Linked DNA regions of Homo sapiens: region 1 is linked to region 2. The links come from fine-mapping of genetic effects on gene expression. Tissue or cell type: whole blood. Region 2 holds a variant in brackets; the other region holds the start of a gene. All regions are shown on one strand. Distances are between the middles of the regions.

Region 1 (10,549 bases), 47 kb before region 2:
AAACTCTACTTTCAGCTTCTAGAGGAGAAAGCTTGCAATGGAAAAAGACAGAGGAAGTAATGATCAGGGGAAAAGAGGATGAGAGGAGTATTTTATTTTTATATTCAAGTTGGGAAAGAAGGAGAACAGGGTAGAACTTTACCTTTTCCATATCTGGTAAACCACCATACTTTGTGGAAGTGAAATGTATACTTTCAGCACTTAATCAGTATGTACCAATAATGAAACCGACTTTCAGGCCTTCCTTTGATAGAACGATCCTAACTATAATGCAAAGTAACATTTTGTAAAGTGGGTTTTTGTCTCTCTCTCCTTCTTTTCCCTCGCCTATACTACTTTAGGATCTGATCACAGAGTCAACACCGTGCTATGCATTATTCCTTCAGCAAACAGTACCCTTTCATGGCTTCACACCAGTGCTCATGTTACTCCCTTTATCTGAAATCATCTTCCCTCTGTTGCTCTGCCTACTCAACTCCTATTCATCCAACAAGACCCAATTAAAATGCCAGCCATGATGCCTTCTCCAGTTCTTCTACCCTGAGCAAGACCAATCCCTCCCTCCATTATGACTCCACAACACTAGTGGATATGTTTATAACTCATCATCTTATATATGTTAATATGTTGCTCTACTTCACAAAAATGTAAACTACTTCAAGTTGGGGCCAGGTCTTATTTATTCATATTTTCCGTGCCCAATACTGCTATATATCAGGCATGATAAATGTATATACTACAGTCTGGACAGTATAAAATGTTTACAGTTTCATAAAGGAGACAAGGTTTACAGACACAAGAGAGCAAGACAATATAATGGATTGGGCTAGGAAAATGAGGGTTAGTTAACTACTAAATTCCACAAATATTTATTAAATAGTCAGGAGTCAGGAATTATGTCCTGGGACTACTAGGATAAATAAAATAGTCATTTCCTTTGAGGTGCTGACAATCCATCTTGTAGATACTCTCTAAATGTGGACAACACTTCCCTGGTTTACCTATAACTTTTCATGTTTTCCTTATAGCAACCCTCTGATGTACATCATTATTTTCATTTTTATAGAGATCGAAACAGAGGGTTTGAATTCCCAGGTCTTCTGACTCCAAGGCCAGGTTTTTCTAACCCACTACATCAGTGTTCCTCAAAATTTTCCTCTGGTGTACACTTTCCCAGTAGAGAATAAACTTAGGCTCCTCAGGGTTGGGTAATACTTGTGTGTTATCTTAAAAAGTCATGCTTACTACAATGTCTTACCTTATTTACCAGAGAGTCAAAATGATGCTCAGAGAAAATGAGCCACATTGATTCTGGGTCCTTGAGGGTCCTCAGTACAGGGTTGCACAATCAAAGGAACCCACATAATATGAGAAGCACATGGCTACACTCCTGCCTTTATTCAGGGTCCCTGGGTTTGGCTTGAGTCCACACTCAAAATTTTGGGTAACTTCATCAGATTTCTTAATGTCATGATTTTATTCACAGTCTTCTCTGAAGACTGGAACAAAACACCCACTGTACTCCCAGATGTTAAGTGAGTAGTGAGGGCTGCCCCTTTCCTCCCTGAAAGGGTATCTCACTCTGGCAATAAGGTCTCCTCAGTCTGATACTCTCTGCCACCCCTCCCATTGCTGGTCTCCTTCAACTCCCTGTAGGTCCTGGAAGGCCGGAAAAGGTTTACCACCACACTCCGGTCAGCACCGCCGCTAGAGGGCAGCCCGCGGCTGCAGCTTCGTGAGCCCTCTAGTGGCTGCTGGGGTGACCTGGCTCTTTTATGGAACCCATTAAAAACTCTCAGAAGTTGCACTTGGGAAGCCAGCCTGTGTGACACCCGGTAGCGAACTTTTTATAAAACGTCTTGGTTCTCGGCTTCCTTTTCTTAAGGCCTTTGGCAGACCTTAGATACGTTACCCCCTCGATGACTCTCCCACTTCCTAAGGATCTCCCCCTCCCAGGGTGTTGCAACTTGGAGCCATCATTCTCTCTTGGCAAGGCAAAAAATTAGAACCTTGGGGAACTTGGCAACTTTCCTCAACGTGATATAGGGCATACACACACACACGTATATATATACCTACATTCAAGATTTTTCAGCGTAATTCCAGTTTCAGCATAGCTTGCAGGCTCTGGAATTAAACTTCCAGGACTCAAATTTTGGCTCCTGCATTTACTAATTGGGTAATTTTAAGAATGTTAATTAACCTAAGCTTCCATTTCATCTGTAACAGAGGGAGACTAATAATACCTACATTATACACTCTTGGGGAGGAATAACTATGATAATGTATGGAAAGTGCTAGTCTGGCACACAAAGTGTTCAACAAACATTAGCTATTTTTATCCTTCAAAGCTTCTGTCTAGTGCACACCATGTCTATCAATTAGGTCCACAAAAATACTGTCTTTACACACCCACATGAAGATATGTATGCAAAATGAATGTCGTAAACCACCTATAGTTTCCTAAAGTGGCTAAGCTAATAGAGACCTTAGAGTATGGAAAAGGGGGCTCATTTGTGTGATGCAACTCGTGCAATGGGTAGTTGGAGCACAGCGTAATCCAAGAGGCCCCGGGGGCGGGGGGGCGGCTTATTTTGCACACAGGTGTTCTTCCTCCCTGCACCCCCACCCTCAACCCTCACCACGTGCAAGCATTCAGTGTGAGTCTGGGCCTTAAGTCTGTGGGCCAGGAGAGAGGGCACAGTGGACAAAAGCAAGAGGGTTTCAGGCCAAGGCAGGGAACTGAGAACTCAAAGGCCAGGCAACCCAAGCCAATCAGATTCACCATCCACTAGGAGTCTAAAAGGTGGCAGAGCCCCACAGCCCAAAGTCCACACACAGCAGGAAAGTGGCCAGAGGATCTAACAGGTAGAAACCTGATAGACACTCTATCAGAAAAGTTAAAGCTGAAGGGCTCATAACACCCACGGGCCCAAAGAAAGGTCAGTGTGAGCTGAACAGCTGTTCCATTTGGTGCCAGAGGCCTTGGCTGTTGTATTCTACATCCACGCAGCCTCCCTGATCAGCCCCACCTAGAAAAGCCAATTCTTCTGCTCTTAAAGGAGACTGACTTATTTGTGGCAAAGCTATCATTTAGGTATGAATGGGAAGGGGGGGAATGGTGCGGAGTCTGCGGGGGGAGGGCGGGTGTTCAACGGGCTCCAAAGGAAGGAGCTCGTGGCTGACGCCTGAGCCTCCATGTTGTGAGTACTACATGCGTTTCTTTCAGAGGCAGGCAGTGGCCTTGGCTGCAGGGACCCTGACAAGCCGCGACTTGAGCTATGCTTTAGAGCCTGGGTGGAATTGGGAGCGGTATAAAGGAGGGAGGGCATTCCTGGAAAGGGGGTGGGGTGGGGTGGGGAGGTGGAGGGGAACAGCATGAGCAAAGGCACGAAGGAAGAATGAATCTGCTGCGCGTTGAGGATGGCATGGAGACTTCCCTGATTGGAGCCGGGAGTTCTTGCAGGGGGATGGAGGCCGCTATGATTGGATAGTTAAAGTGGGGCCAGATTTGGAGGGCTTTGAATGCCCGACCGAGGAGCACTCAACCCAGCTCCTGACTCGCGATTTCCGTTCAAGACCGAATTACCTAAAGGGTGGTTAATTCCAACGGGTGTTCTTCTTTGGGGGCTTCTGAAAAGTCAGTTTATCGTCTTACCTGCTTCAGTTCTCTTCATTTACTCAGGGAGGAAGTAATCCTCACATGCATGTGCAGGGGAAGGGGGATAATGTTGATTTCTCTTTACTTGCTTTGAAGATGCCTCCCCCGCCCAAATCCCATTTCCACGCCAAATATTATTAAATTTGGTTTCTCCTCCTCCTCCTCACGCAAGTTCTCTTTCTCTCGCCAGCACCTCCCCCACGTTTTCCTGCTCTCCACCAGCCGGGCCGGACTCCTCCCGGCCCCCAGCGGCGCGCTTCCCTGGCCCGCTGGCCCGCGCCGCCCTCCGCGCCGTGCGCCCCCATCCCGGCCCGTCGCGCCCGCGGCCCGCACACCCTGGTCCACGCCCCCCGGCGGAGCGGTAGGTGTTGTGCGGTCTGCGCCGGGCCGCAGTGCGGCTGCGCGCACTGGGCTGCCTCCGGGGCTGGCAGGGCAGCGGCGGCCGCGGCGGCGGCGGGGCCGGGAGCGAGCGGCGGCGGCGGCGGCGGCGTGGGGAGTGGCGTGGAGCGGTGCCTGGGGCTGCAGCAGCACGGGGACCCGGCAGTAGAAAGCCCCGGGGACAAGGAAGGAAGGCTTGGCCGCCAAATCCCTGAGCAACCGTTCTTCTTGGATTTTGGGGGGAGCCTGCCCCCCCCACTTCGTCTTCAAACGCCCCCATCTCACCCCCCCACAGCCCCGGCCGCTGACGGGAGGAGGCGGCGGCGCCAGCGGGGGGCTGAGGGGCGCCGCCATGCCTCTCCCGCGGTGAAGCGCCCCGGCCGTGAGGAGCCGCTGGTCTCCCCGGTGATGTTCCCCAGGCGGCAGGCGAAAGCGACTCACTCGAGCCCTGGGGTAAAGGCCTAGCTTATCCAGCTTCCTTCCTCCTCCTCCTCCTCTTCCCCTCCCCCTCCCCCTCCTCCTCTCCCCCCTTCGTCCTCCCCTCCCGGTCTCTTCCCTCACCCTTCCCCGCGCCCCCATCTTTCCCTCCCTCCCTCCCACCCCTCTGCAGCGATGGCAGAGGAACAACAACAGCCGCCACCACAGCAGCCTGATGCCCATCAGCAGCTTCCCCCCAGCGCCCCCAACTCGGGGGTGGCCCTGCCAGCCCTTGTGCCCGGGCTGCCAGGGACAGAGGCCAGCGCGCTGCAACACAAGATCAAGAACTCCATCTGGTAAGAGGATCCTCCATCGCTCGCGTGAAAAAGCCCAGGCACATTTCTGCTGCAAAGTGGGTGGGGGGCGGCGGGCGGGGGGAGCGGAGGAGGAGGCTGATGCATTCATTGAATGTGGCTTTCCCCAGTCGGGTGCACATTTGTAGGATCTCTGGAGGTGTGCGGACTTTGCATCAATCAGCCCCTGTCTTCTTAGCTAAAAAATGCTTTTACCCCTTCCTCAATTGTGAGTGCAGATAAACAAGTTTTTTGGTTTTATTTTTTCACTCATTGTAACAGAAATATGGGTCGAAATTAAGTCATATTGCATGATGGTGGCATGAATTTGGAACTGGAGAATGTGAAATGTGTTTACTCCTTTTTGCAGCCATAGAAGGAGGAAGAAGTGTATTGTGAATTTTCACCAAACAGATACTGTGCGTAAGAATATTAATATGCAGCACAAAACCTAATGTGTCTCTTCCTTTCAGTTGGGTTAGCTGCTATTTCTGAATGTTTTTGCCTCCCTTATCCTAATATTAAATTTCTTTTTCAGGGAGTTTATTCTTTGCATTGATTGTGAAGAAAGTGCTTTTTTAGTATAAAATATTTTAAGATGGTAGTTTACAACAAAGTGGTTTTTTTTTAAATTAAAATATAGGGAATCAAATGTCTTGCCATTTGTATGTCTTTTTAAAAGAAACCATTGATGGAATATCTTTCGCTATTTTACTTTCTTGTATGAAAATTTCCAATATTTCAGCATTAAACTCCTAAAGTCTAGTGGGAATCTTTTAATAATTAAATACACTAAGTCCATCCACTGTTAGAGCCATTGCAATATTCTTTGAACATGAACTTGCATTGTTTTGTAGGATGCTTCATTAACTGCCTTTTTTAAGTGTAGCAATATTTTTTAAATGGAAAGTAATATTTGGAATTTGGTCTAAGATTGCTTTTAATAGAAGTTTAAAAAGAATTTTATATGGTATTTTAAAAAGCCTTGATTTTGAAAATGGAAATGAAATCTTTGCAGGGCCATCATTGAATATGAGTACTAAAATATCAAAACTCATTTTCTCATTTTGAAAACATATCGTAAAGCAACTGGCGTTGCATGAACAGTATTTGCACATTTTTAAAGTGACAATTTTTAAATACAAGATTTAGGTTAGTTATATAGTAATTTTCATTATTTTCTTGGCATGCATCCATGCCGTCATGATGCTGATATGAAGTAGGTCAGTGCAGGCTTTAATAGTTTCATCAACAGTAGTTGGCAGTTGAGTATCTTGCTTTCAGTTTTAATTTTAAAATGAAGTTTAAATATTTTAAAGGAGAATTTTTTTGGCTTTGACAATAGTCATGTTGTGGCAACTTGAATAGGTCTGATAGATATGATTGGGGTGTGTGTGTGTGTGTGTGACAGAAAGCAGGCTTTATTCTTCAATGGATACCCTCACCCCCTTTTTAAAGCTATAATTTAAAAGAAGAGATGGTGAATATCTTGCTTGCCATCAAGGTTTTCACAAAACCAGTGTGTATGTGTGTGTGTTTTTAACCTCTAGTAACGTGACGTAACTTTGTGTTTCTGAAATCATCATTAAATTGAATTAAGCACCTTGGTTTTACATTCAGATGTGGGAAATCCAAGTTAATGGACTAAAATCTTTTAAGAGAGACAAATTTTAAAAGTTGAATGAGTAATGTATATTTTAATTGATTATGAGAACAAGAGGGGAAAGGAATCTTCACTTTATAGTTTTAAAATAAGTGAGTTGTGGAGGCAACTGACTGAAATGTTTGAATAATGATGATAGTCGAGTGCACTTTTTGGCAAATAATGTGTAAATTTAATTTTTTTTTATATTGGCACATCCATTACAGCCTAACTGCTCTGACTTTAACATGAGAAAAACTTCTGAAGTAGAGTGCACTCCAGTTTTTGGTACTTGCTCTGAAAAAATAATGGGCAGCAAACACGTGAATCCCAAAATATGAAAATTTATATTTTTGTTTTAAAATTGTAATGATACACTTATTGGCATCTAATGATCAACTTTAGAAATCCTATTTGCAAAAATGATTTTTATATACTTAAAATTTCGGAATAAACAACATTTGTAGATAATAAACAAAATTAGTAAATATACTTAATAGTGTCATACCCCCTGCTCCACAAGAATGGATTTATATTATTCATCAAGTGACTATGTAAAATAAAGATATCAAAAGTGAAAACTCCTTTACTACCATATATTCCTAAGAAATAGTATATATGTATTAAATCATTTTTAATAGATGATTGCAGTTAGATATTTCACATTTTTGAGACAATAATATTATTTTACAAATTATTTTATCACCTGATAATATTCTGAGAGACTATCAGTTTTGTACTACTTCCTGAATCATCCTTTGGTGCCATTATTAATGAGAGTTTAAAATTACACTCAAAAGAAATGTGACATTTAAAAATTATCAAATGGGTTTTGCATTTGGTTTATCATAGTTTCTAAATTACTGGGCTTGCATATCACAAACAAGTCTGTACTTGTCCTCCTACTCTACAAATATAAATATAGTATGTGATGTAGGCCTTTGGACAATAAGTTATCAGTTCATAATTTACTCTGTTTATTAAACTGAAATATGGTTTGATAAAAGTATGTGCATTGAAATATCAGGCATTAAATGAGTCTGGAAAAAAAGCATTCAAAGTTGAGTGGAAAAGAGTTGGAAATATATTTTAAAGGTAATTATAGAAAATAAGGTTAGTACAAAATTGACAATGTTGTTATGTTTCTATAATATGGTTATGAATACCTTCAAGTTAACTCTAGGTTAACAAGCTTGCATGTTTCTTACCCTTACTCATTCTTACTCCATAGACAAAAGGTCCAAATCACTGACACTATTCACTAGAAAGGAGATTTCTTAGTAGGCATGTGCTTTAGTATTGAATATGCTGTAAGGTTATTTGTATTTTCTAAAAAGTAGAATTCCAAAATTAGCTTTTTGTTGTTAAAAAAAAAAAAAGAAAACTAGTAACCCATGTATTTTTACCTAAAACAAGGCCACAACCCAACCTAACTGCAAACTTCTTTTAGCTTAAATTGTACCCCTCTTTGGTTACTTCAAAAAAAAAAAAAAAAAAAAAAGAAATACCAAAGCAAGTTTTCCCTTCCTCTTATCTCTCAGTGTCTTCGTAGTTTAGTGAAAATTTTTTAGTGTAAGCAACAGTAAACACATTTACTAAGTCCTTTTATTTACCTTTTTAAGGCAGTTTTACTTGAAACCCTGATAGAATAAAATTGCTGTGGAAAAAATAGGATTGAGATGGTTTCTGCCTGTTTGTGAATTGAGATCATACCTACATGAGTGGGAGTGAATAACATATTTGCAGTGAGGCTGTAACATAGATACAGGTTGATCATCCCTAATCCAAAATCCCCCAGAATTCAAGATGCTCCAGAATCTGAAACACTCCAAAATCCCAAACGTTTTTAGTGCCACAAGTGAAAAATTCCACACCTGACTTCATTGTATCACACACAAAATTATTTAAAATATTGTATAGGCCAGGCGCGGTGGCTCACACCTGTAATCCCAGCACTCTGGGAGGCTGAGGCGGGCGGATCACCTGAGGTCAGGAGTTCAAGACCAGCCTGGCCATGGTGAAACCCCGTCTCTACTAAAAATACAAAAAATTAGCCGAGGGTGGTGGTGCCCACCTGTAATCCTGGCTACTCGGGAGGCTGAGGCAGGAGAATCGCTTGAACCCAGGAGGCGGAGGTTGCTGTGAGCCGAGATTGCACCATTGCACTCCAGTCTGGGCAACAAGAGCAAAACTCCGTTAAAAAAAAAATTGTATAAAAATTACCTTCAGGTTATGTGTATAAGGTGTATATGAAACATAAATGAATTTCTTGTTTAGACTTGGGTTACATCCCTAAGATGCTCATTACACATATGCAAGTATTCCAAAATCCAAAATAATAAATTGGAGGCACACTAGGCGCAGTGGCTCACGCCTGTAATCCTAACACTTTGGGAGGTCAAGGTGGGCAGATTGCCTGAGTTCAGGAGTTTGCGACCAGCCTGGGCAACACGGTGAAACCCCGTCTCTACTGAAATCCAAAAAATTATCCAGGTGTGGCATCGTGCGCCTGTAGTCCCAGCCACTTGGGAGGCTGAGGCAGGAGAATCCCTTGAACCCAGGAGGTGGAGGTTGCAGTGAGCCGAGATCATGCCACTGCACTCCAGCTGGGCGACAGAGCAGGACTCTGGTTCAAAATAAAAAACTAAAAATAATAAATAAATAAATAAGTCGGAAGCACATATGATCCCACGCATTTCAGATAAGAGATAGTCAACTTGTATTAAACTTGTACCTGAAAATTCAAAAGAAATCCTGATGTTTTATTTTAGAAAATATTCCAATACTGCATTTACTCAAATTTAGGGATTCTTAAAAGAATTTGTTATCAATTACTGTTTTTATTTCTGTAACTTTATTTGCAGGCAAGACCTCATAAGCCTCTTCTTAAAACGGTCATATAAGATCTATCGTTTTGCCCACTTTATGGAAAGAGATAAACAATGACAGAAGACCTATAAGATTCTACTGATTCCTTATTAGACCCTGGAAAAAATGCTGGGGTCAGAGTTCCTTATCTTTATTCAATCCTGTAAGGCATACATACTTCTGTATCTGCTATATTTTAGGCTGAAGATTATAATAAAAGTAGAATTATATATATGATCTATTTTGGATGTTTTCTGAATTCTAGTTAAAACCCAAATTGAACAATTTTGTTTTACTTTCTTATGATGATGACAATCAACATCTAGATATTAAGTGATTAATCTCTTGTTTCCATCTTAGTTACAGGGAGCTGTGTTTGGTGATCCAGAAGGTTTACATAGTGATGCCATATTAGTTCTGATTACAGTCCGCCATCCTAGAATGCAGTGGTTCAGTTTTATTCTTGGTTTTTGAATCAGGTAGTTTATTAACTCTGTTGAGAAATATTGTTCCTTCAGCTACAGTGGAAAACATGTACTATAAATTCATAACTTTAGAGTTTACTTTAACTGAAAGTCTATGATTTTCATTTTGCTTTAAAAATACAGACCGACTAGCACATCAGCTGGCTTCCATGTATTTTTGATTAGTAGGTTGACCTCCTACCTACCCTGAGTTTAGCCTGTCTTCAATACCAAGCACACAAAAGACTTAAGATGCATTTTGCATATCCGTATTGAGGCTAGCTGTGTCCCAACATGGTTTCTGGTTCCAGAAGGAAGGCAGTTCCTTGCTCTCCTATGATTTTAAACTGATAAAATTGTCTTCCCTATTGACAAAAGTTAATTGCAAGTTAAGCAATTCCAAGCCTGTTGATTTTCTTGTCTTGTTTAGGTTGGGTAGTGGATATGTACATATTTAAATGATTGACCAATTTGCTCTCTCCATTGAAAGGTGTCTTGAATGATGGTATGTGCAGGACTGATTTGGTTTATGTCTAACTGTAAATTTTTGGTATTAATTGGGGAAAATGAGCTTCATAGTGGTAGAAAAGAGAGAAGTGTCTTGTTATGAAAGATGCATTGGATTAAGAATTATGTTGCATTACTTTTTCCATTAGAAAATAATATTGCATGCTAAAATTGTGCAAATGAAAATTAAAATAAGCCTTATCATTTACTTATATTTGAGGACTTTAAGCAAGAAGAGTTTGTAAGTACTTAAATGAGT
Region 2 (10,549 bases):
AGTCCGTAGTCTTCCCATTAAGCACCATTACCTGGATATGCCACCTTAATGGAATTCTCATTTTAACTTCAGCTCTCTAAACCATTTCCATTTTGGTTTTCTTTTTTATAATCATTTAAGCACCTAATACCATGGGCTGGTTTAATGCTTTTCAGTTAAAAAAAAAAAGACTTGTACATACATAGCATGTCACCTATTAGTGGCACCTAAAGTACATTCAAAAAATTGAAGTCACATTTATCCTCTTGTTTTTCTCAATTTAAAGATCTGCCTTATCTCTGACACAACTTTTTCTTTTTTTTTCTTTTTGAGACGGCGAGGCTTGCCAGGCTGGAGTGCAGTGGTGCGACCTCTGCTCACTGCAACCTCCGACTCCCTCATTCAAGCATTTCTCCTGCCTCAGCCTCCCGAGTAGCTGGGATTACAGGCATGCACCACCACACCCAGCTAATTTTTGTATTTTTAGTAGAGACAGGGTTTTACCATGTTGGCTAGGATGGTCTCGATCTCCTGACCTCGTGATCCGCCCACCTCGGCCTCCCAAAGTGCTGGGATTACAGCACTTTTACGACTTTTTCTTAATGTAACATTAGATACTAAGCTGCATGGTTTGTAACTTCCTCTGAAACTATGCAGTAGGAGAAGAAGAGTTGTTTTCCCCACTGTGCAATCCAGTGATGTTATCTTGCCCTGTGTTTTAGCTTCTTTTTAAATGTTTTATATGTTATAAAAACTTAAACAATAACAAAAAGTTTTAAAAGCTTTTTAAATGTTTGAAAAGAAAGTAAAGGCTTAAAATCTCATCTCCCAGAGAGAACAGTCATCCTTACAGATGGGTCGCTGTGCATGTAGCTATCTCATGTTTTCATTTCATTATTTTTATGGAGATTGTTTCCTGTTCTGTAGACTAGGTAAATTTGCCTGTATTTGGAACCTGCACCTACCTCTGAAGGTTCAGCACTAGAGGGCACTGACCTTTAATTCAGCTTATTTACTGACAATATATAATGTTTCTATGACAGAGGAAGTTCCAAAATGGTAAGACTGGGGCACAAAATATTCTTCTTGATTAAAATCCCAGTGTAAAGTGGAGGCATTATTATCAGACATAATCATAGCATTTTTAACTGGATAATGGAGCCAAATAAAAATCAGTGTGTGACCTTGTACAAGTCATTTTTTATCCTAATTTGTAAATGAAAGGGTTAGACTAGATTTAGTTTTAATGTAGCATTTATTAAGAACCTATTACATGCTTGTTATTACAATATGGCTTTTTATGTAAATGTTGAATCTTTATTTTAAAAACTCGAGATGTAGTATGCCTCGGGAAAAATGATTCTTCTAAGTCAAGGGCATATAGCTAGTAGTTGCAGAATTGGAATTCTTCCTGTCAAGACCATGTTTTTGGTTCCTGCTATATTTACCATGGTGTTTCTTACTAAATAAATTTATTTGAAGATCTTCTTAACTTTAAGGAGTATATTATATGTGCAAATGCTTTCCTGTTATTTGACATATTTGAATCCTGTTGACTCTTTGAGCTTTTAATATTAATATCAACCTGAAAATGCTTGCATTAAAGAAAACAGGGAAGGCATATAGATTGAGGCTAAAGAGAGCAGCACAATTTGTTCAGTACTCTGCCTCCCCAAAATACATATTTTTACAATCCTGTTAGAGCAAATTAGCTATTTTTAAATATTACAATGGTAAAATTCAGCATTTGGAGCAACCAGCAATCACGTAAGGAAAGATACCTATACGTGGAAGGACAGCAAAAAAGGAAAATAACTCATTAGAAAGCAAAAATGAGTCATTATATCCTACACTTTCAAATAATATTCTTTCAGTATCACTCAGTGGTAACTTAAGTAAATACTGATTAACAGTCACTCAGTAGACTGGTTATAGTGGTTGAATCTTTGATTTACAGCCTTCTCTTGTAAATTTTAAGTTTTTCACAGTTTAAATCAACATCAGAAGGTTTTTAGGTGTCAGACTGCAGTCTCTTAGCTGTAGGTCCTACATGGTTTATTTGCTTTTCCTTTTAAAAGGATCTGCTAAGTCCTTCCTCTCTTTTAACTTTTTTTTTTTTCTTTGTCAGAGATGGGGTCTTGCTATGTTGAACAGGCTGGTCTTGAACTCCTGGCCTCAAGTGATCCTTCCATCTTGGCCTCCCAAAGTGCTGGGTTACAGGCCTGAGCCACCACACCCAGTCCCCTCTTTTAACTTTTCATTGTAAAAAATTTCGAATGTATACAAAAGGAGAGAAAAGACAATGAACTCTCAGGTCTTTATTATTCAACTTTAACAATTAGTTTCATAGCTAATCTTATTTATCTGTAAGTCTTCATTGGTTATTTTGAAGGGAATCCCAGACATCATATCACATTTACAGTTTGTTTGAATCAGTGTCCTTATGGCTACTGGTGGATATCTCTCAAACTGTAGATCCCTTTAAAAAATTTTTTCTTGAAGTTTTTTATTTGTTGAAGAAATTGGATCCTTTGTCCTATGGAGTTTCCCACAGTCTGGATTTGCTGATTTTATCTTCATGGTGCTATGTAGCATATTCCTCTTCCCCTTTATTACTATAAATTGGTAGTTAAATAGAGATATGTTTCAATATTTCAGCAAGAATACTTTGTAGGTGGTGTTGCGTACTTACATTGGGAGGCTGAGTCCCTTTTACTCTAATGGAACATATTTCCTTGACTATACTGAACTAGACATACGTTGCTCTAGGGAGAGATGTTTTTCTTTTGAGGGCGTCTGAGGCAAAAGTCATTCTAGGTCCCATTCTTTTTTTTCTTTTTTATACTGCCTCCACTACAGCATTCCACCTTTGAACTTCAGGTTAGGGATTGTTGGGAAGAGGCTATTACCCACCTGTTGTATGCTCCTAAATTATTTAGTTAAGAATGTAGAAACCAAGTGACTATTCTGAATAGCAGCAAATACAGTATATCTAAAAAAGTTTTTCCCATCTCTTTAGGTTTCCTGTGGTACATATAGCCACCGTCCCTACGAGAAAGGTTCAGCTAGCATTGCTGTATCAAGTTCTGAATATATCATTGCCTTTTTGTACCTAGGCTTTCTTGAACATTCTGCAAAGACTTAATAAATGATATTTATAACATCACAATTTTCTGGATTTTGAACTAATTCAGCACTAGCAAGACCATATTCTCATCCTGGGGGAGAGAAAGCAGAGTCAGTGCCCAGATGCACTTAAGTGGTATATTTACCTCTAGCATTCCAGAATCCTGGAAAGCCCATCTTCCTGCAGTCCACCCCTTGAATCTGTTTTAATACCCTTTGACTTCTGTGGTTCAAATATATAGTTTGTATCAAAGACCATGATCCAAATACTTTTTTTCCACACTCCTATCCCTACTTTGCTTCCCTTTCTCTCCCTTCTCTTTCTTCCATCCTTCCTTTTATTGGTCACATGTTTATAATTGCCTAACGTGTACCAGGCAAAGTGCTAGACTTAGGAAGCAGGTTAACAAGACATAGGCCTTGTGTGCAAGGGAAGGGATGGCCCACTGGGACATTTCATTATCTATATGAAAAAAAAACTATCACATCACACATGGAATCCAGAAAAACTCAGCCCCCAAATGTGAAAAGCAAAAGTTTAGAAGAAAATAAAATAACTTTGGGAGCTCACGGTAAGGAAGATTTTTAAAAACATGTCAAAAGCACTTTTCATAAAGAAAAATATTTGACTATATTAAAATAAAAATTTTCCTTGGACAATGAACACTGTTTAAAAAAAGCAACATGCCGCTGATGGCGATGTAACTCAAGTAGTTGACAAAAGATTAGTATCTAAAGTATAAAAAGAGCTTCTATTAGTAAATAAAATAATAAAAACCACCATGCAGAAAAAGGGGTAAAGGATATGAGTAGGCAATTCACAGAAGAAAACTTAGTGATCAGCAAATACATTAAGGTGTTCAACATCACTGATTAAAAAAAATGCATTTTAAAACAAAATATTTCATACCCATCCGATTGGCAGAAGTCTGTCATTACCAATTTTGGAGAGGATAGAGAGAAATCAGTCTTATACACAGCTGATGGAGTATAGATTGGCCAAAATTACCTTGAAAGGCAATTTGGCAATAATTAGAAAGTTGAAGATCAACATACTGTAGTGTGTGTGCGAATATTTGTGTATGTGTCCAAGAAAAAGTCCTGCAATATGAATAACAAGATCTCCATACCAAACATTTGTTGCAATGTTGTATGTTACAGTACAGAGCTGGAAATACCGTTAAGAGCCCATTATTAAAGAATAAATAAAGCAATGGAATACCGTGCATATTAGTTTGCTAGGGCAACCATAACAAAGTACCACAGACTTGATGGCTTAATAGAAATTTATTTTATTTTATTTTATTTTTACCAGTTCTGGTGGCTTGAGGTCGAAGATCAAGGTGCCAGCAGGGTTGATTCCTTCCGAGTGCTGTATCCGTTCCATCAGATACAGCACTTGGGGGTTAGGGCTTCAACATACAAATTTGGGGAGGGGTCTGGACACACAATTGAATCCACACTTCTATGTAACAGTTAAAATGGGTAAACTAGAATGTATCAAAATAGATAAACTTCTAATGCCTATTAAGTAAATTTTTTTAAAAAAAAGAGTGATACATGCCGCAGAACTTCATGCCTGTGAAGTAAACAAAACTATTGTATTGTTTATGGAGATAGTCAGCATTTGTAGTAAATGTATATACATTCATGGGAATAATAACAACTTCTGGATAGCGGTCACCACTGAGAAAGGAATGGTGGAATGAGATAGGAAAAGATCCCATGGGGACTTTATCTGTAAAGTTTTCTTCCTTAAAGAAAAAAGGAAAAAGTTGAAGTTTGTTCAAACTGGCTAGCAGGTACATGGGTGTTATATTATTCTTTATAACTTTCCTATATATTTGGAACCTGATAATATTTTTTAAAAAGCAAAGAAAATATATGAATGAAATAATGTTATTAATAGAAGTTGAAAATTCATTTGTGTAATATGATCTAGTAATCAAATATCAGGCACAAGTTACCTTATGATAAAGTTCATTCTTCTGGCTGAAATTAGATTTTATGTTTAGAACAACAATAAAATCAATAAATCTTTATAGCATCCTATGTCAAAAGCAAGATGTTTACTTTCCATACATAAAAACGTGTGAGCTTTTGAAATGACTCATTTGTAGAGCATTGAGTTGCGTATATTAGGGAACTTCTTATAATGTAACACAATACATAGCATATGTCATTTTGTTCTAGAGCAGTGGCTCTCAACTAGAAACAAGTGGAAATAATGTGGG[G/C]CAATTTTAGCTGTCAGAATGTCTAGGAAGCACTGCTGGCATTTAGTGAACACCACTGTATGATTCCAAACATCTTATAATGCATTTGATAAACCCATAAAGTAAAGCAGGGTGCCATCCTAAATGTCAGTACCTGGTTGAGAAACACGGGTCTTTGGTTAATTTCCTTTCATGAAAAGTAGAGTCTCTAAAATTCATAAGAGCAGGCAAGTACTAAGAACAATGACTATTTCAAAGGCAACTTGGATTACAGAGAGAAACAGAATTGATAGTTTGCAATCTGTTGATTAGGCACTAGTAGTATCTAAAGGAAGTTTTTTCTTAATTTTATGATCCTAATTATTTTTTATTAAGTAAAATTAATAACATAAAAATTAACCACATAAAGTGTATGATTCAGTAGCATTTAGTAACTTTACAGTGTTATGTAGCCATCACCTCTATCTAGTTCAAGAACATTTTTCATCATCCAAAAGGAATATGCATTAAGCAGTCACTCTTCATTTCCGCAACCCCAACCAACCACTCATCTGCTTTCTATCTCTCTGGATATAGCTATTCTGGAGATTTTGTATACAGGGAGTCATACAATATGTGACCTTTTATGTCTGCCTTCTTTCACTTAGCATAAAGTTTTCAAGGTTTATCCATATTGTAGCATTTGTTGATACTGCATTCCTTTTTATGGTTGAATAATATTTCATTTTAATAATATATCACATTTTGTTTATCCATTCATCCACTTATGGTCATTTGGGTTGTTTCCTCCATTTGACTCTTGTGAACAGTGCTGCTATGAACATCAGCCCATTTGTGTAGAGGTTTTTGTTTGCATTCCTATTTTTATTTCTTTGGGTGGAATTGTTAGGTCAAGTGGTAATTCTCTGTTTTAGCTTTTTGAAGATATGTCAAGTTTTTCAAGAGCAGCCATATCATCTTTCATTCCCACAAGCAATGTGCAAGGATTCCAATTTCTCCCCATCCTTACCAACAGAATCCATTATTTTTAAGAAGACAAAGTAAGTGAATTTAAATGTCTTCATGGTGTGATTCCGAATGTTTTTTATTTCCTTTTTTTCTGGCTACACCTTTTTAGCATTAGCCACTATTATGACTATTATTATTTTTTTAAATATAAAAAATTTTGTTTTATAGCATATGAGCAAACAAAAGTAAAAGTAAATAGTTTTCATTTAATATAAGCAAGTATAAGGTAAAAATAAGTTTTGCTATGATGGACTGCGAGCCAAGTCACAACCTACAAAAGGGATCTGAAGTCAATGTGTTTTTAACGGAATTAATTATTTTATAGGGGTAGAAGCTAAGAGTTTGATTTGTCCTGGTAAGGATAGAATGTAAGAGCTTCTTCTCGTTGATCTATTATAGTATACCTCCTCTATTTCAGATTGTCTTTGGGTTAAATCTAGTATCTGGTATTCACAGATACCTCTGTTTCTATAACACAAGAAATTTGAATCAAGTATATAGGAGTTGTGAGTCACTCTGACTTCAGACTTGAGGACTCCAAATAAATGTAAAAATAGCATTGAACTTTTGGATAGAGGCTAAACTTGGTGTTGGAAGGGACAAGTGAGAGTCTCCTAGAATATTTTCTGCAGTAAAAAATAGTTTATCAATGATTTGTTGAAACTGGGGAAAGTTTCTGAAATGTTTCTAGCAAACAAGATATCTAAATGTTCTTTCTGTGATACTATTGCTTACATTGTATTATATATTATATATGTTTGGCCCATGACTGCTAATTTATTTATTGTATCATCTTTAAATTTGAATAAAGGGAAATGTTACATGGTATTTTTGTGACATTTCTTTGTGAGAAAGTAGGATTAGACTAAGTTTTTTTAATTTTTAAACACATGCTTCCTAAAATTTATTATTTCTTTTGTGTAGCCCCCCTGGATAAGAAAGCTTTATCTAGCTTCACCCTATAGTTTGATTTAGAGAAAACACAATATGCTTTCTCAAGCCATCTCTGTTGCTTAAATTTTTATCTGCTTTATTGCTGATGTTTTCCCCCTCTTCCCTACTACTTTATATCAATAACATTCTGGTAATATGACTTGAGATGTAAATCTTGAAAGATTTAGAAGATGAGTAGTTAGCATGTTCCATAAATGTAATAGTTATGATACCACAGCACAATTATGGTACTGAAATTTTGTTTTTTAAAATCTAATACCAAAATACCAGACTGATACTATTTAATTAAAATTTTTGTAAAAGTTAAAAATCAGCAAAACAGGAAGTTCAATGCCTGTCATTATCAATTATCAACAATCATCAATTTAAAAAATTAGAAAAATATTAATGTTGAGCATACATTGTCATTTGAACAAAACTTATTTGCAGATAAAATTAGTAGTATCATTTTATTCAAAAATAGAAAATGGCCTCAGAGGCTGCCCGTCTGCTGGTCCCAACACCACACGCGCCTTTCCTGCCTGGGTCTTGTTGCAGTCGCCGCCGCCACTGCACCATGGCTTTCATCACCAGGCAGTTCATGCACTCTTTGTCTTCCTTGTCCACAACCTTGGGCAAGAAAAATCATCATCAAGCACATGATGGTCATCAGCATCACACAGGTTGCTGCAGTGACCGGCCACACAGTAGTGTTGCTAGACCAGACAGAGGACATCTTGGCAAAATATAAAGAGGGAATTGAGAAAAGCCTTAGGAAAGTGACAAAGAAGTTGTTTGTAGAAAACCCTAAGGCTTTTGATGAATTTGTGGAGAAAACCCTAAGCAGCATATCAACCAGCACAGATGCAATATCCGTAGTCCACAGCACAGACCTAGTGGTAGAGGCCATTGTAGAAAATCTAAAGGTGAAAATCAAGCTCTCCAAGAGGTTGGACAAGTTTGTTGCTGAACATACAAGTTTGCCAGCAGCACTTCCTCTTTGCAAATTACAAGCATAGCCAATGCTACCACCAAACAAGACCGATTTGCTGGCCTCCATTTACTCAACCCAGTGCCCCTGATGAAATTTGTAGAGGTCTTTAAAACACCAGTGACCACCCGAAAGACATTTGAATCTTTGGTAAACTTGAGCAAAACCCTGGGAAAGCATCCTGTTCCTTGCAAGGACACTCCTGGGTTTATTGTCAGCTGTCTCAGGATTCAACACCTCATGGAAGCAGTCAGGCTGCATGAATGAGGTGATGTATCCAAGGAGAACACTGACACTGCTATGTAGTTAGGAGCCAGGTACCCCATGGGCTCACTTGAGCTTCTAGATTACGTTGGGCTGGATTCTGTGCAGTTCATCATGGATGGATGGCATGAAATAGATACAAAGAACCCCATATTTCAGCCCAGCCCATCCTTGAAAAAGCTGATGGCAGAGAAGAAGCTTGGCAAGAAGTCTGGAGAAGGATTTTACAAATACATGTGATGCTCAGCTTCTCTGGCACTGAGAAGAATCCCTGTGAGCGCTTACCAGCCAGCACCCAAAGTGCCTGTGAGAATACTCTTTGGTCAGACATTCCCTCACACAGCACAGTCTATTTGATAAGCATTTTGATTGTAATCTATCCGAAGTTATTATTACGCTAGATACAGTAGTAACAGATTCCACCATTAAGAACTAATTCCCATGTTTAGTCTGTTTATTTCTGTGTATTTTCTAAAAAGCGTTATACTGTTGGTGCTTTGGAACAAATGCTGTCATTTTTGTAAAGAATTGCCTGAATTCATTCTCTCATAAGGGGAAGATACTTGCTCTGAGAGTGAGAGTGAGAGTATATTGTGTTCATTGTTGCTGTGTGGCAGTCACAAGCCATTGGGACAGACAGGGTGTGTCTGTGGAGTGCTTCAGCAAGCAGCACCTGAATCTTGCCTTTATGAGAACATTTTGCCCCTTGCAGCCTTGAGCCTTACCCTACCTTCTGGGCACAACATAAGATGTTATATCTCCATTCAGCTGATCATCAAGACACTGCTGCTGCATGGGTGGGCTTTCCATGTGCTTGGTTTGCAGTAAGAGGTCGGTTTTCCTGGTCATTCAGTTCCACAGATCGTAATAATTACTATCTGTCTGGTTTTTTTTTCCCACAAGAAATCAGTGTTGCAAAATTGCCTATAAATGGACTAATAAAATACAGTCTTTTAGTCTGTCAAAATTTGAATTGAAATAAACATGTATAAAATAAAAATGTTTAAGAAACCCCAAAATAATAAATGAACATTTAAATTATGAAATATTTAAAAGTCAAATGTTATCTGCTTTTATAAAGTGCAGGCTCAGATGTGCATTGGTGGTTTATTATTGAGTGATACGTGTATTTTTGTGCATATCTTTCCAGCTGCTGAAAATGCTTTCTTAACTAGTTGGAGTAATGGTAAAAAGATAGATAATTGCAAATATATTCTTCTAACTCCTTTGTCTATAGGTAATTCCATTTCTTTTTTGATAACTTTGAGGTTTTGTTATTTGAAATTTTATTTACTTGAATTTTCATATATTTAATTTTTTAATCAAAGCTTTAGGAACTTATAATTTATTGACTCAAAAAGATATTACAAAACATGCTAACAAAAACCACAGTTACCCAAACCACTAACTCATTGCCTGTCAGAGAGAACCAGGTGCTTTCTCTTCTTTTACATCCCTACCTCTGTCCAGTGACAAAAATTGGCCAGAGAGGAAGGGAGCCCTACTGATGGTGAAAAGTCCAGCTTCCTGGGTTATCACAGAGGGTAGAGAGTGATTTCAAAGAGCAAACAGAAAATAGCCAGCCTAAATAGATTTAATTTCTAAGATGTCTCTTTTTAACTTTCTGAATATACTTTAAAAATATATGTATATAGTATCCAATTTGTGTTTCTTGAATGCCGTGTCTTCCCTTAACCTTTGTGAGGATTAAAATTTTGTTTTCTTTTTGCACAGTGTTATTTCTTCCAAGTAAGGGTTTCACCCCCTTTTTTCCTGTCTTTCATATTAGAGAGTTTTTTCCAGTTGTCTGTCCATCTGAGTATGTTTAAGAGTGGGGCACAAAAAGTTGATAGGAAGCTCTTCATGTGTAGATGGTGCTTCTGCTGTCTGATTCAGTAGGTCTGTAGTGGGACCCATAAATTTGCATTTTAACTAGTTCCCAGGAATACTGATACCGTTAGTCCAGGAATCATATTTTTTTAAGAACTGCTTTATTAGGGAATGCTTTTGTGATTCATATCTATGGAAGGGAATG

The links. PIP is the estimated chance that this variant, and not a neighbour inherited with it, causes the effect.
Region 1: it holds the start of RFX7, and the variant in region 2 is fine-mapped to the expression of RFX7 in whole blood (INTERVAL, PIP above 0.99).

Annotation. Positions count from the first base shown.
Region 1 is chr15:56,237,388-56,247,936 of GRCh38, reverse strand. RFX7 (regulatory factor X7) reads left to right here and starts at 4,058. Exons shown (of 10, transcript NM_022841.7): 1 at 4,058-4,492; 2 at 4,650-4,812. The coding sequence starts at 4,652. It overlaps LOC124903569 (laforin-like), which reads left to right and starts at 3,119. Exons shown (of 3, transcript XM_047433428.1): 1 at 3,119-3,203; 2 at 3,758-3,954; 3 at 4,055-4,586. The coding sequence starts at 3,119. The coding sequence ends at 4,504. It also overlaps a transcript of TEX9 not described here. RefSeq lists enhancers at 2,149-2,794, 3,033-3,082, 2,795-3,440, 3,441-4,086 and silencers at 3,333-3,382, 3,873-4,162, 4,313-4,372, 4,463-4,532.
Region 2 is chr15:56,190,552-56,201,100 of GRCh38, reverse strand. All of the region lies in intron 2 of RFX7 (regulatory factor X7), which reads left to right. It also overlaps the pseudogene LOC390586. Among named protein-coding and RNA genes, the nearest start is that of RFX7, 48 kb to the left of the region's middle. The variant G/C (reference allele first, on the strand shown) is at 5,340.